4 linked regions of the Homo sapiens genome follow. The protein of the gene in region 4 purifies or fractionates together with the protein of the main gene of each other region. This does not show direct contact. Each region holds a gene or a part of one and is shown on either strand. Other genes may lie near its edges.

What was found. The genes of interacting proteins can lie anywhere in the genome.
Region 1: the proteins of ATAD2 (region 4) and ASF1B purify together in Homo sapiens (co-immunoprecipitation; one large-scale study listed by IntAct). This does not show direct contact.
Region 2: the proteins of ATAD2 (region 4) and SYCE3 purify together in Homo sapiens (co-immunoprecipitation; one large-scale study listed by IntAct). This does not show direct contact.
Region 3: the proteins of ATAD2 (region 4) and MAGEB3 purify together in Homo sapiens (co-immunoprecipitation; one large-scale study listed by IntAct). This does not show direct contact.

Annotation. Positions count from the first base shown.
Region 1 is NC_000019.10:14,130,090-14,133,589, reverse strand, and holds part of ASF1B (histone chaperone ASF1B), read left to right. Parts: intron 1-3,500. UniProt on the Homo sapiens protein: Histone chaperone that facilitates histone deposition and histone exchange and removal during nucleosome assembly and disassembly. Cooperates with chromatin assembly factor 1 (CAF-1) to promote replication-dependent chromatin assembly.
Region 2 is NC_000022.11:50,552,920-50,556,419, reverse strand, and holds part of SYCE3 (synaptonemal complex central element protein 3), read left to right. Parts: intron 1-14; coding exon 15-123; intron 124-3,500. UniProt on the Homo sapiens protein: Major component of the transverse central element of synaptonemal complexes (SCS), formed between homologous chromosomes during meiotic prophase.
Region 3 is NC_000023.11:30,229,448-30,233,456, reverse strand, and holds the start of MAGEB3 (melanoma-associated antigen B3), read right to left. Parts: upstream 2,801-4,009; 5' UTR 2,640-2,800; intron 1,941-2,639; 5' UTR 1,839-1,940; intron 1,391-1,838; exon of another isoform or gene 1,315-1,390; intron 631-1,314; 5' UTR 541-630; intron 196-540; 5' UTR 94-195; intron 1-93.
Region 4 is NC_000008.11:123,319,350-123,323,447, forward strand, and holds the end of ATAD2 (ATPase family AAA domain-containing protein 2), read right to left. Parts: intron 3,718-4,098; coding exon 3,589-3,717; intron 1,827-3,588; coding exon 1,785-1,826; 3' UTR 501-1,784; downstream 1-500. UniProt on the Homo sapiens protein: May be a transcriptional coactivator of the nuclear receptor ESR1 required to induce the expression of a subset of estradiol target genes, such as CCND1, MYC and E2F1.

The DNA of each region.
Region 1 (3,500 bases), on a different chromosome or scaffold from region 4:
TTCAAGCGATTCTCCTGCCTCAGCCTCCCGAGCAGCTGGGATTACAGGTGCCTGCTATGACGCCTGGCTAATTTTTGTATTTTTAGTAGAGACGGGGTTTCACCATCTTGGCCAGGCTGGTCTTGAACTCCTGACCTCAGGTGATCCGCCCGCCTCAGCCTCCCAAAGTGCTGGGATTACAGGCGTGAGCCACTGCGTCCAGCCTCTGCTGATCATTTTTTAATAGAAATGGAGTGACTTCACCAGAGTCACACAGCCAGTTTGTAGAAGTATTGGCACTGAAGTTTTGAATCTAAATTCTTTATCTTTGCTCCAATCCAGGGAAAGAAAGGAAGGATTCCCTGTTTCAGGGGTGGAGCATAGATAGGAATGACCACAGAATTTATTGCCTAATCAGGACACTCAAAATGCAGTGAAGGGAAGTGCTATTATTATTATTTATTTATTTATTTATTTATTTATTTATTTTTGAGATGGAGTCTCGCTGTGTCACCCAGGCTGGAGTGCAGTGGCGTGATCATGGCTCATTGCAAGCTCCGCCTCCCGGGTTCACGCCATTCTCCTGCCTCAATCTCCCAAGTAGCTGGGACTACAGGCGCCCGAAACCATGCCCAGCTAACTTTTTGGATTTTTAGTAGAGACGGGGTTTCACTGTGTTACCCAGGATGGTCTCGATTTCCTGACCTTGTGATCCGCCCGCCTCGGCCTGGGATTACAGGCGTGAGCCACCGTGCCCGTCGTATGATTATGATGATGATGATGATTATTATTAGAAATGGAATCTCACTATGTCACCCAGGCTACAGTGCAGTGGTGCAATCTCAGCTCACTGCAATCTCCACCTCTCGAGTTCAAGCGATTCTCCGGCCTCAGTATCCCAAGTAGTTGGGATTACAAGCTTGAGCCACCATGCCCGGCTAATTTTTGTGTCTTTAGTAGAGACGAGGTTTCACCATGTTGGCCAGGCTGGTCTCAAACCTGATCGCAAGTGATATGCCCACTTCAGCCTCCCAAAGTGCTGGGATTACACTTTGAATCCTAAGCGCCTGGCCAGAGAATGCTATTGTTAATTGTACCTGGATGATAAAGCTTTTCCTTTGAGTAACTCAAGTGAGAAATCCTGGCTCTTCCAGTCCTAGGGCTCTCTGTGACTGATCTGCCAGCTTGCTTTCTGCCTCCTTCTGGACTCCTCTCCATGAAAAAGGGAGAATCTGCCTCACTCTCAGCAGCGTCAACTGAAAATCTGACAAAACCCCCAACCCAGCTGTGTGAGGTGGCTCATGCCTGTAATTCCAGCACTTTGGGAGGCTAAGGAAGGAGGATCTCTTGAGCCCAGGAATTTGGGCCAGCCTGGGTAACATAGCAAAACCTTGTCTCTACAGAAACATCAAAAAATTAACGGGACTTGGTGGCACGTGTCTGTGGTCCCAGCTACTCAGGAGGCTGAAGTGGGAGGATTGCATGAGCCCAGGAGGTCAGGGCTGCAGTGAGCCATGATTGCACCACTGCACTCCAACCTGGGTGAGAGAGCAAGACCCCCATCTCAAAAAAAAAAAAAAAAAAAACCACCCTAACCCCTAAGCCCCAGTTGGGTGACCCCTATTTCTCAGGGGCCCCAAGCCCCCTTTGCACTTTTATCTTCCACATCTGGAAATAGATTCTTCCACATTTAGCTGAGAAATTCAACAGACACTGGTTGAATAAGTCATAGAAGCCAGATGTTCTGACCCAGAAATAACGAAGTTGTTATGGCAGCAGAGCTCATCTTTGATTATGAACAAAGGCAAAAAGCAAACAAACAAAGGAGGCCTGGCATGGTGGCTCACGCCTGTAATCCCAGCACTTTGGGAGACCAAGGCGGGCAGATTACCTGAGGTCAGAAGTTCGAGACCAGCCTGGCCAACATGGTGAAACCCCGTCTCTACTAAAAATACAAAAAATTAGCCGGGTGTGGTGGCGGGCGCCTGTAGTCCCAGCTACTCGGGAGGCTGAGGCAGGAGAATGGCGTGAACCCAGGAGGCAGAGCTTGCAGCGAGCCGAGATTGCACCACTGCACCCCAACCTGGGCAACAAAGCAAGACTCCATCTCAAAAAAAAAAAAAAAGAAAAAGCCAGGTGTGGTGGCTCACACCTGTAATCCCAGCACTTTGGGAGGCCGAGGCGGATGGATCACAAGGTCAGGAGTTCGAGACCAGCCTAACCGACGTGGTGAAACCCCGGCTCTACTAAATACAAAAATTAGCCAGGCATGGTGGCACGCAGCTATAATCCCAGCTACTCAGGAGGCTGAGGCAGAAGAATCGCTAGAACCCGGGAGGCAGAGGTTGCAGTGAGCTGAGATTGTGCCACTGCACTCCAACCTGGGTGACAGAGCGAGACTCTGTTTCAAAAAAAAAAAAAGAAAAAAAAAATGGCCAGGCACAGTGGCTTACCCCTGTAATCCCAGCATTTTGGGAGACCAAGGCAGGTGGATCATCTGAGGTCAGGAGTTTGAGACCAGCCTGGCCAATGTGGTGAAACCCTGTCTCTACTAAAAATACAAAAGTTAGCCAGGCTTGGTGGCAGGTGCCTGTAGTCCCAGCTATTTGGGAGGCTGAGGCAGGAGAAGCGCTTGAACCCGGGAGATGGAAATTGCAGTGAGCCCAGATTGCGCCATTGCACTCCAGCCTGGGCGACAGAGCAAGACTGTCTCAAAAAAACAACAACAAAAAAGCAGGAAGCAGACTTTTTAGCTAGTTCAGCTATACTAATTGTGTACATGTCTTTAGTCTTATCATTTATATATATATATATATATATATACACACAAACACACAGTGGAGGTATGTCTTGCACAGGGACTAGCTTGTGAAGTTAGCGCAGAGAGATAACATGGGACACAGTTGAGTTGCCTTGACATTGCTCAGAAGGTTAGGTACACACGTCATGTGTACAGCTGTGTCCTGTACTCATAGCTATGAGTTCCTGCTGTATTGGTGATTTGTGTCCCATGTATAATTCTAAAGAAAGATTATATTTAGAGATGAAATCATACACGTATGTCTCTACTTATAACACTGCAGCCAGATTTTTTTTTTTTTTTTTAAAGAGATAGGGTGTCACTATGTTGCCCAGACTGGACTTGAACTCCTGGGCTTAAGCAGTCCTCCCACCTCAGCTTCCTAAGTAGCTGGAACCACAGGTGCACATCACCATGCCTGGGCACTTCAGCAAATTTAAGATGATTCTCGACTGGGCATAGTGGCTCATGCCTGTAATCCCAGCACTTTGGGAGGCCAAGGCAGGCGGATCACAAGGTCAGGAGATCGAGACCATCTTGGCTAACACAGTGAAACCCCGTCTCTACTAAAAATAGAAAAAAAAATTAGCCGGGCGTGGTGGGGGGTGCCTGTAGTCCCAGCTGATTAGGAGGCTGAGGCACAAGAATGGCATGAACCCGGGAGGCGGAGCTTGCAGTGAGCCGAGATCGTGCCACTGCACTCTAGTCTGGGCAACAGAGT
Region 2 (3,500 bases), on a different chromosome or scaffold from region 4:
TGTGCATTGCCTAGATGGATGATGCTGACCCTGAGGAAAGAAACTATGACAACATGCTGAAAATGCTGTCAGATCTGAATAAGGACTTGGAAAAGCTATTAGAAGAGATGGAGAAAATCTCAGGTAGGATGTGTGAACCCAAAAGTATCTGAGACAGGTCTCAATCAATTTAGAAAGTTTATTTTGCCAAGGTTAAAGATGCACCTGTGACACAGCCTCAGGAGGTCCTCAGGACATATGTTCAAGGTTGGCAGGGTACAGCTTGCTTTTATACATTTTAGGGAGAGAGAATACATCAGTCAGTACCTGTAAGATGTACACTGGTTCGGCCGGGCGCGGTGGCTCACTCCTGTAATCCCAGCACTTTGGGAGGCCGAGACGGGTGGATCACGAGGTCAGGAGATCGAGACCATCCTGGCTAACACAGTAAAACCTCGTCTCTACTAAAAATACAAAAAATTAGCTGGGTGTGGTGGCAGGCACCTGTAGTCCCAGCTACTCGGGAGGCTGAGGCAGGAGAATGGCATGAACCCGGGAGGTGGAGCTTGCAGTGAGCCGAGATGGTGCCACTGCACTCCAGCCTGGGCGACAGAGTGAGACTCTGTCTCAAAAAAAAAAAAAAAAAAGATGTACATTGGTTCGATCTGGAAAGGTGGGACAACTCAAAGGGGGATGATTCCAGGTTATAGATAGATTTAAATTTTTTCTGATTGGCAATTGGTTGAAAGAGTTATGGTCTAAAGACCTGGAATCAATAGAAAGGAATGTCTGGGTTATGACGGTAAGGGGTTGTGGAGACCAGAGTTTTATCATGCAGATGAAGCCTCCGGGTAGCAGGCTTCAGAGGGAATAGATTGTAAAAAGCTTTCTTATCAAACTTAAGGTCTGTGTTCATGTTAATGCTAGTCACCTTTTCCTGAATTCCAAAAGAGAGGCAGGTATAACGAGGCATACCCAATTTCTCCTTCTCCTCACGGCTTGAACCAACTTTGGCCAAGCAATACACCCACCTTGGCCTCCCAAAGTGTTGGGATTACAGGTATGAGCCAGCGTGCCTGGCCAAATAGCTTTTATTCACTAGAGCAGACTTTAGAAAATTTCTCCTTAGAAATGTTTGCAATTTTTTGCCTATGTACTTTTGAACTATGAATAGCTGAGACACGTATCAGTTAATTTAGAGAGTTTATTTTGCCAAGTTTGGGGACACTTATCTGTGACACAGCCTCAGGGGGTCCTAATGACATGTGCCCAAGGTGGTCAGAGCACAGCTTGGTTTTATTTATTTATTTATTTATTTTAAGACAGAGTCTCGCTCTGTCGCCCAGGCTGGAGTACAGTGGCGTGATCTCGGCTCACTGCAAGCTCCGCCTCCCGGGTTCATGCCATTCTCCTGCCTCAGCCTCCCGAGTAGCTGGGACTACAGGCGCCCGCCACCACGCCTGGCTAATTTTTTGTATTTTTAGTAGAGACGGGGTTTCACTGTGTTAGCCAGGATGGTCTTGATCTCCTGACCTCGTGATCCGCCCGTCTCGGCCTCCCAAAGTGCTGGGATTACAGGCGTAAACCACCGCGCCTGGCCTTGTATTTTTAATAGAGACAGGGTTTCACCATGTTGGCCAGGATAGTCTTGATCTCCTGACCTTGTGATCTGCCCGCCTCAGCCTCCCAAAGTCCTGGGATTACAGGTGTGAGCCACCGCGCCTGGCCTTTTTTTTTTTTTTTTTTTGAGACGGAGTCTTGCTCTGTCGTCCAGGCTTGAATGCAATGATGTGATCTCAGCTCACTGCAACCTCCGCCTCTCGGGTTCAAGTGATTCCCCTGCCTCAGCCTCCTGGGTAGGTGGGATTACAGGCGCCTGCCACCATGCCCAGCTAATTTTTGTATTTTTAGTAGAGACGAAGTTTCACCATTTTGGCCAGGCTGGTCTCAAACTCCTAACCTCAGGTGATCCACCTGCCTTGGCCTCCTGAAGTGCTGGGATTACACGCGTGAGCCACCACGCCCAGCCAGCAAACAGTTTTATGTAGTGAAAAATCTATCAATATTTTCCTTTCTGATTTATTGCCATTATTTTGACACCTAGAAAGTCTTTCCTCAATCTGAGATCAGTGAAATATTTAGTTGTATTTTCTTCTACTTTTCTCCGTATTCCTTTTTAACATTTAATCCTAACCCATCTGGCATGCCAAATGACCTACGCTGCGTATTGCTTTTTTTTTTTTTTTGAGACAGAGTCGCGCTCTGTTGCCCAGGCTGGAGTGCAGTGGCACAATCTCGGCTCACTGCAAGCTCTGCCTCCCGGGTTCACGCCATTCTCCTGCCTCAGCCTCCCGAGTAGCTGGGACTACAGGTGCCCGCCACCATGCATGGCTAATTTTTTTTGTATTTTTAGTAGAGATGGAGTTTCCCCGTGTTAGCCAGGATGGTCTCAATCTCTTGACCTCATAATCTGCCTGCCTTGGCCTCCCGAAGTGCTGGGATTACAGGAATGAGCCACCGCACCCAGCCGCATATTGCATTTTTATATAAATCTGCTACAGGCTGGGCACGGTGGCTCACACCTGTAAACCCAGCACTTTGGGAAGCCGAGGCAGGAGGATCACAAGGTCAGGAGTTTGAGACCAGCCTGGGCAATATGGTGAAACTCCATCTCTAATAAAAATACAAAAATTAGCTGGGCGTGTTGGTGGATGCCTGGAATCCCAGCTACTCAGGAGGCTGAGGCAGGAGAATCACTTGAACCCAGGAGACGGAACTTGCAGTGAGCCGAGATCATACCATTGCACTGCAGCCTGGGTGACGGAGCGAGACTCTCTCTTCTGTGATAGTCCCTGGGCATAGAGGGAGGGTGTTTGTATCGTTTTAGCAGCAGGGCATTTGCAGTGTAACAGATCCGGGCCCAGTGCGATGCCAAATGAGGGAGATTCATATCTTTGGTCATCTGCAGAATACCATGATTTTAGTTTCCTTGGAAGCAAAATGAGGGGAGATAAGTTTGACAATTATAAGAGTAATTTGTGCATTAGAACAGAAAAAGGAACCTATTCCATTAGGGCACCAACGAAAAATATGAGGAAAAGTTACAATCTGGTCCTCTCTAGAGGATTATTGTAGCCAAGAAACAATGATTTAATTTGCACTCAAAAAAACGTTATGGCTGGGCGCAGTGGCCTGTAATCCCAGCACTTTGGGATTTTATTTATTTATTTATTTATTTTGAGACAGGGTCATACTCTGTCACCCAAACTGGAGTGCAGTAGTGCAATCTTGGCTCACTGCAACCTCCACCTCCCAGGCTCAAGGGATCCTTTTTTTCATCTCAGCCTCCTGAGTAGTTGCAACTACAGGTGCACACCACCATGCCCAGCTAAATTTTGTATTTTCTGTAAAGACAGGGTTTCAACATGTTGCCCAGTCTGATCTCAAACTTCTGAGCTCAAGTGATCCACCCACCTCAGCCTCCCAAAGTGCTGGGATTATAGGTACCAGCCACCTTGCCC
Region 3 (4,009 bases), on a different chromosome or scaffold from region 4:
CTTTCTTTCTTTCTTTCTTTTTTTTTTTTTTTTTTGTGACAGGGGCTCTCTCTGTCTTCCAGGCTGGAGTGTAGCCGCGCAATCTTGACTTACCACAACCTCCACCTCCCAGTCCTCGAACTCCTGTGCTTAAGCGATGAGGCTGGCTTCGTCCTCCCAAAATGTTGGGATTACAAGCGTGAGCCAGAGCCCTGCCTTAAAATTAAAAAAAAAAAAAGTTTATATCTATTTATTTATTTATTTATTTATTTTGAGATGGAGTCTCGCTCTGTCACCCAGGCGGGAGTGCAGTGGCGCGATCTTGGCTCACTGCAACCTCTGCCTCCCGGGTTCAAGGGATTCTCCTGCCTCCACCTCCCGAATAGCTGGGACTACACCTGTGCCCCACCACGCCCGGCTAATTTGAGACAGTGTCTCTCTCTGTCGCCCAGGCTGGAGCGCAGTGGCGTGACCTTGGCTCACTGCAGCCTTGACTCCTAGGGCTTAAGCGATCCTCCCACCTCAGCCTCCTGGGTAGCTGGGACTACAGGGGCAGCTCACCTCCCAGTCCGCGAACTCCTGTGCTTAAGCGATGAGGCTGGCTTCCTCCGCCCAAAATGTTGGGATTACAAGCGTGAGCCACAGCCCTGCCTTAAAATAAAAAATAAAAAAAAGTTTATATTTATTTATTTATTTACTTATTTTGAGATGGAGTCTCTCTCTGTCACCCAGGCGGGAGTGCAGTGGCGCAATCTTGGCTCACTGCAACCTCTGCCTCCCGGGTTCAAGCGATTCTCCTGCCTCCGCCTCCCGAATAGCTGGGACTACACGTGCGCCGCACCACGCCCGGCTAATTTGAGACAGTGTTTCTCTCTGTCACCCAGGCTGGAGCGCAGTGGCGTGACCTTGGCTCACTGCAGCCTTGACCCCTAGGGCTTAAGCGATCCTCCCACCTCAGCCTCCTGGGTAGCTGGGACTACAGGGGTGCTCCACTGCTGCCCCGCCATTTTTTTTTTTTTTTGTAGAGACAGGTTTTCGCCATGTTGTCCCGGCTGGTTTCGAACTCCTGGGGGGGCCCAAACAGTTCACTCGCCTCGGCCTCCCAGTGTGCTGGGATTACAGGCCTGAGACGCCGTACCGGCTTGGTCTTCATCTTGACTCTAGTTAGGGCCAAGAGACCTCTGAAGAACTGAGGCTGCCCTGTTAGAGAAAGCCTTCCCCTCCCTGAGACCCGCCAGGCTGAAATGAGAGGCAAGCCAGTTTTATAGTTCCGCCTAGGGCTTTCCAGGGTTAAAAACATGGATTGTCCCTTCAGTCCCCGCTGAGGGTTCTTACCTTTACTCCGGATCAGTTCTAAGACTCACGCTAGGCCACGAACCTGACTGAAGCTATTGCACCCGTCAGGCCAACTGCCTCACTTTCAAAGCGGAAGTGAGGCTGAGCCACACCCCGCTCGGGGTCTCCGAGGGCTGACAGCAGCGGGTGACACGCTGGGACCCCACTGTTCTGGAGTCAGTGGTCCCTAGGTCCTTATTCAGGGTTCTCACCTTGATACTAAGCGGAGCAGAGTAACACCTCTACTGAGCGAAGTCCGCCAACCTCCAAAATCCTCCCCTCCCATAGTCCCTAGAGGGGAAGTCTAGGCATGTTATCGGACCATGTCCTGGGGCTTCAAAGACCTGAAACAGGGTTAGGGCTTTTGGTGGGCCCTTCTTTTGGAGAGAGGTTCCCTGGTTAGCACCGGTGGGCCTCATATTTCTTTCTTTCTTTCTTTCTTTTTTTTTTTTTTTTTTTTTTTTTTGTGACAGGGGCTCTCTCTGTCTTCCAGGCTGGAGTGTAGCCGCGCAATCTTGACTTACCACAACCTCCACCTCCCAGTCCTCGAACTCCTGTGCTTAAGCGATGAGGCTGGCTTCGTCCTCCCAAAATGTTGGGATTACAAGCGTGAGCCAGAGCCCTGCCTTAAAATTAAAAAAAAAAAGTTTATATTTATTTATTTATTTATTTTGAGATGGAGTCTCGCTCTGTCACCCAGGCGGGAGTGCAGTGGCGCTATCTTGGCTCACTGCAACCTCTGCCTCCCGGGTTCAAGCGATTCTCCTGCCTCCGCCTCCCGAATAGCTGGGACTACACGTGCGCCGCACCACGCCCGGCTAATTTGAGACAGTGTTTCTCTCTGTCACCCAGGCTGGAGCGCAGTGGCGTGACCTTGGCTCACTGCAGCCTTGACCCCTAGGGCTTAAGCGATCCTCCCACCTCAGCCTCCTGGGTAGCTGGGACTACAGGGGTGCTCCACTGCTGCCCCGCCATTTTTTTTTTTTTTGTAGAGACAGGTTTTCGCCATGTTGTCCCGGCTGGTTTCGAACTCCTGGGGGGGCCCAAACAGTTCACTCGCCTCGGCCTCCCAGTGTGCTGGGATTACAGGCCTGAGATGCCGCACCGGCTTGGTCTTCATCTTGACTCTAGTTAGGGCCAAGAGACCTCTGAAGAACTGAGGCTGCCCTGTTAGACAAAGCCTTCCCCTCCCTGAGATCCGCCAGGCTGAAATGAGAGGCAAGCCAGTTTTATAGCTCTGCCTAGGGCTTTCCAGGGTTAAAAATATGGATTGGGCTCCGAGAAGTCCCCTTATTTGTGGGTTTAGTTTTCCCTTTTTTACTCACTCAAGAACCTCACTTCGCTGCTGGCCAGTCCTGGGACTCCACATTCCATGCCATGAATCCTGCTCAGATCAAGGTCCTCCGAGATCTAGGCTGAAGTTTTGATGAGCCACATTAGGCCAGGGATGTTTGGGTCCTGTGAGGGCAGACAGCGGAGTCGGGTTTCTATGGGACATCACTGTTCTGGCTCCTCCTGTTCTTCATTCAAGGTCCTCCCTGATATCTGCCAGACCCTGGATCCTCCCTCTAGTTAACTGAGGTCACCTTAGGTCAAAACTCTCACTTCACTGAGAACTCTGAAGGGTAAAAGAGAGGATGCTCAGTCTGACTGCACTGCCTGGGGCATTCTAGGCTGAGAAGAGGTTTGGGTAGATTGCCCCGTTATCTTTTGGTGTGGTTGTCTTTCCAGTATTTATTTATGGGTGTCCTCCTTATTTTCTCTTGCCTCTCTGAATAAAGGCTTCCTGGGAAATGCCACATCCCTGCAAACTCTTGGGCAGCGTTCCTACTGCAAACCTTGCAAGTCTGTGCCCCAGGGCTAATGTGAGGTAAAGAAATTATAACACAAAGCAGGGAGTCCAAGGTAGCTGGTGGGTTGTCAGAGAAAAATGATGCTGATTTACTCTTTTCAATAGCCAGCACTAGCCTCTTATGTGACTTCTGTTTTAATTGATTTACTTCTTAAGGGGAAGGAGCTGTTCAAGATGATTGTGTGGTCCCTGATTTTGAGGTTATCTGACTGTGCATATGTAGATGATCATATTGTCACTGAATAATATCTCTTTCTCCTCTTTATTTGTAGCTTTCATTTATTTTGATATTCTTTATTGCTTTGGCTATGTATTCCAATCCAATTCTTTGGGCACAGAATCCTTCTTTTTAACCCCTGAGATATATTTGGAAGTATTGAGAAGAAAAGTGAATTAAAGAACACAAAGTCTGCTCCAGGCAGAGAGGAACAGAATGAAGAGTGTGGGCTCTAGAAGAATTCACAACAGGAGTCTAGTCCCAGCCCTGTCACTTACTCACCCTGTGAACTTGAGCATATTACCAAACTCCAAACAAAGAAATTATAATCAAACAAAATGCTGCTTAGCAAGGAAAATTATATAATTTATAAAGTGTTTGTGGAAGAGCCTTCTCCAATTGGATACAACTCAAGTCTCAAAATTTTTGTCAATGACCAATATTTTTTTCTAACTCCTAGGCACCCTTCTATGTTAACCACTCCTGTTTTGATTTTTATTATTTATTTATTTTTTTTTTTTGAGATGGAGTCTCACTCTGTCACCCAGGCTGGAGTGCAGAGGCACTATCTCGGCTCATTGCAACCTGTGCCTCAGGGCTCAAGTGATTCTCGTGCCTCAGCCTCC
Region 4 (4,098 bases):
GGTCCCAACTACTCAAGAGGCTGAGGCGGGAGAATCGCTTGAACCTGGGAGGAAGAGGTTGTGGTGAGCCGAGATCATGCCATTGCACTCCAGCCTAGGCGACAGAGCAAGACTCTGTCTCAAAAAAGGATTTCCTACATATAAAATCATGGCATTTGTAAATAAAGAGAATTTCACTTTTTCCTTTCTGAGTTCCTTTTGTTTTTCTTGCGTTAACTGCACTTTTGAGCAACAAATGGGAGATAACATTCAACACTGCAATTTCAGCATGGTTTTCAAACTCTACATAGGAATGTAGACATAACACTTCTAAAATCTGTAGAAGACATTTCAGGAAGCACTTTAGTCGTTGTACCTAAAATACATGTACCATATAAAAACATTCCAGTGTCAACAGCACTTTAAATTTTCACAGTAATATATGAAAGAACAGACTTTACACTTCTTTTGCACAGAATTATCTTTGCTATGTTTTAAAATACTTAAGAAATAGAAACAAATTTAAGAGAGTTTTCACCTTTAAAATTTATTACATAAGCTATACACACAAAATGAAATCCTAGTTATAAAAGATGCATCTAGAAGAATAATTTATAATAAACCAACAAAAATGAGAATGTGTATCTCCAGGAATATAAATATATTTAAATGTTCTCAGTGACTGGCATTGCTTTATGCATTACATAAGATAGTATGTACTAATTAAGGTATTGAATTCACTGGGTTTTAGAAGGCTTTAAAAAAAATCCAGATAAATCAACAACAAAAATACAGCTCAACTTTGAACTGCATTAAAATCCAGAATCTCTCATTTTAGATGACCATTCCTTATTCCCCTCAAAAGGTTTCCAACAGAAGCTATTTCACAAACTGATTATTAGAATGTCTTCTCCCCACTCTCCCCAAAAGCAAGTATGCATGGAAGTGCATGCTTTTAACCTTAAGAAATGTATTTTTGGTACCATTAATATAAAATTATAATATTTATATTTATAAAATTGTATATAAAAAGTATCAATAGACTATAACCTAAACAGTTTTAGAAAGATATCAACAGCTTGCAAATATAAAAACCTTGTGCTATTAAAAGGTGTTTAACAAGGTAGTTATTAATACATTTGTTGTGTATATAATTACAAAAGTAAACCAAGAAATATTTAAAATCTTTATTAACCCAAATTAGAATTATAAAAATGTTTGTCTCAAAAACAATGACTGTGATACTCAAGTACAGAATTGTGGTGCAGCCAGAAGTGGTTCAAGAGCCCTCCCGCAAATCATGACTTGCACTCTGGCTTTTAAGTGAAGACGAGGGAATCTCAAGGCAGATGGGAGGAGGGCATTTGAAGAAAACAAAGATGACAAAAAAGATGGGAAGGACACAATGGTTAAGTAAGTTTCTTGTCAGATACAATAAACTATTTTTAGGAAGGATAAAATTAAAAGTGCTTAATACAAACAAAATTTAACGCTGCTAATTATTCTTAAGTGCCATAAAACATTAGTTACCAAAATAACTTTATTAAGAGTTGGCCAAACTTCAACTATTATTACTATTACTACAGGGTCTTGTTCTAGCAAAGTTCCAATATTTATCAGTTATCTTACACATGACATTTATCTTAATATGTACATAAATATCAGGAAAGTTTAAATACTTTTATTTTACTATTTTAATCTTTTCCTTAAAGATGCAGGGTTTCATACTACATCAATTAGGCGGACATGACAAAAATGACTTAAATAGGAACTGAATATAAAGAATACTCGATACCATGACATCATCATCTGGAACAACTGAAGTTTTCTACCTCTTGCTCCATTTTCTAGATAAAGGGGAGGAAGAGCAAATAGTAAGTTTCAATATGGAATAAGCTAAAGAAACATTTCATTACTTTTTCAGTAAACAACCTTAAGAATATTAATATTCAGGTATATATTTGATAGTGAAAATAAACATTCAGTTCAGTATTTAAGACTGCCACATAGATTTTACCTGTAGGACTTCATTATTTAAATAACTTTGAAATGAGTCTGGGGTGCATTCATCTTATGTTAAATTCAAATAGTATTAATCAAGGTACTGATGTAGTTAGAGTTTAGTATTTTACACTTTGTAGGTATCAATATTATATATATACTACATAGTATACTTTAGTAGGTATACTAAATACTATATATATACTAATGGTTATCATTTTTATATTTTGTAGTTACCAATAATATGCATATGTAAGTAATATCTTTTTTTAAAATTTAGCACTCTCTAGTGAAATGATCTGTTATTAAAAATAATAATAAGGCCAGGCATGGTGGCTCCTGCCTGTTAATGCCAGCACTTTGGGAGGCTGAGGCGGGAGGACCGCTTGAAGCTACGAATTTGGGACCATCCTAGGCAACATAGCAAAACCTCCATCTCTACAAAAAATTTAAAAATTAGCCCAGTGTGGTGGTGCTTGCCTATAATCTCAGTTACTTGAGAAGCTGAGGCAGGATTGCCTGAGCTCAGGAGTTCCAGGTTATAGTGAGCTATGTTCTTGCCACTGCACACAGAGAAAGATCCTGTCTCAAAAATAAGTATTAATGCTCTAATTAACACTATAATACCTACTATAAAGGAAGATTAAGTACATAAGTCTTTTTTTTTTTTTTTTGTCATACAGAGTCTTACTCTGTCAGCCAGGCTGGAGTGCAGTAGCTTGATCTTGGCTCACTGCAACCTCTGCCTCCCAGGTTCAAGTGATTCTCATGCCTCAGCCACCCGAGTAGCTAGGACTATGGGTGCACACCACCACATCTGGCTAGTTTTTGTTGTTTTAGTAGACATGGGGTTTCACCATGTTGGCCAGGCTAGTCTTGAACTCCTGGGCTCAAGCAATCCACCCGCCTTGGCTTCCCCAAGTGCTGGGATTACAGGCATGAGCCACTGTGCCTGGCTGACAAGTCTTAAAAGAAGCTATTATTCTTCATTAATACATACACACAAAAGGGGTATTCATAGTTTATGTTCCACTATTTATTAAAGACACAAACTATTGGCTGGGTGCAGTGGCTCACGTTTGTAATTCCAGTACTTTGGGAGGCTGAAGTGGCTGGATGGCTTGAGCTCAGGAGCTCAAGATCGGCGTGGGCAACATAGTGAAACCTCATCTCTACAAAAAACACAAAAATTAGCTGGGCATGATGGCAGGTGCCTGTGGTCCCAGCTACTTGGGAGGCTGAGGCAGGAGGATCGCTTGAACCTTGGAGGTGGAGGCTGCAGTGAGTGAGTTGAGATCGCACCACTGCACTCCAGCCTGGGCGACAGAGACCCTGTCTCTAAATAAATAAATAAATAAACAAACAAACTAATTAAGTTATAGATTGGAAAAATACTAAACTCACTTGCATTTAGAAATAATTCATAATCCACATATTAAAAATGATCTTTATGGAATGGGACATCAACTTTGGAAATAGAAAGATGGTCTTTAAGTTCCTACAATCAGTTTCTTACACAGATTAAATAAAGCCTCAACAATCCTACATAAGTGATATATTAATGTGACCACAAGAGCATTTGTAAAAAGTTTCCACTCAAGAGTTTACCTGAATAAGTGATGTTTTATCATGGTCCTTGCGATGCCGATAAATACATTGGCTGATTACTGCATACAAATTTTCCAACTGAAATATGTTGTAGTTTTGACTTTTTTTAACAACAGTCTTCAAAAGATTCTAAAAGAAAATATGAGTGTCAATATGTGTGAGAGAGAAACTTCCTCAGACAAGATACTTAATTTAGAAGGTTTGGGCAATTATTACAAGCCTGACAGAGGGTAGACCAAGCCATCTGATGACACAGGGCAGCCTCTGGCAGTGGCTCTGACATTTAAATGTACTTAAGTCTAGCTATAATCCTGGCCTTGACCTTGAGTAACTCATATTCTAAAAACTAGAGCTGAGGGGATTGCCAATTCTAAGTCTAGCCATAAGCATCTACAAACAAATTAAAAACTAACCTCAATTTAGATTAACAGGAGAAAAGCAAAGTTTTTTTGCAGGGGATTTTATGATAGTATAAGTACATTTTAACTAATTTTATTATGTGAAACTAAA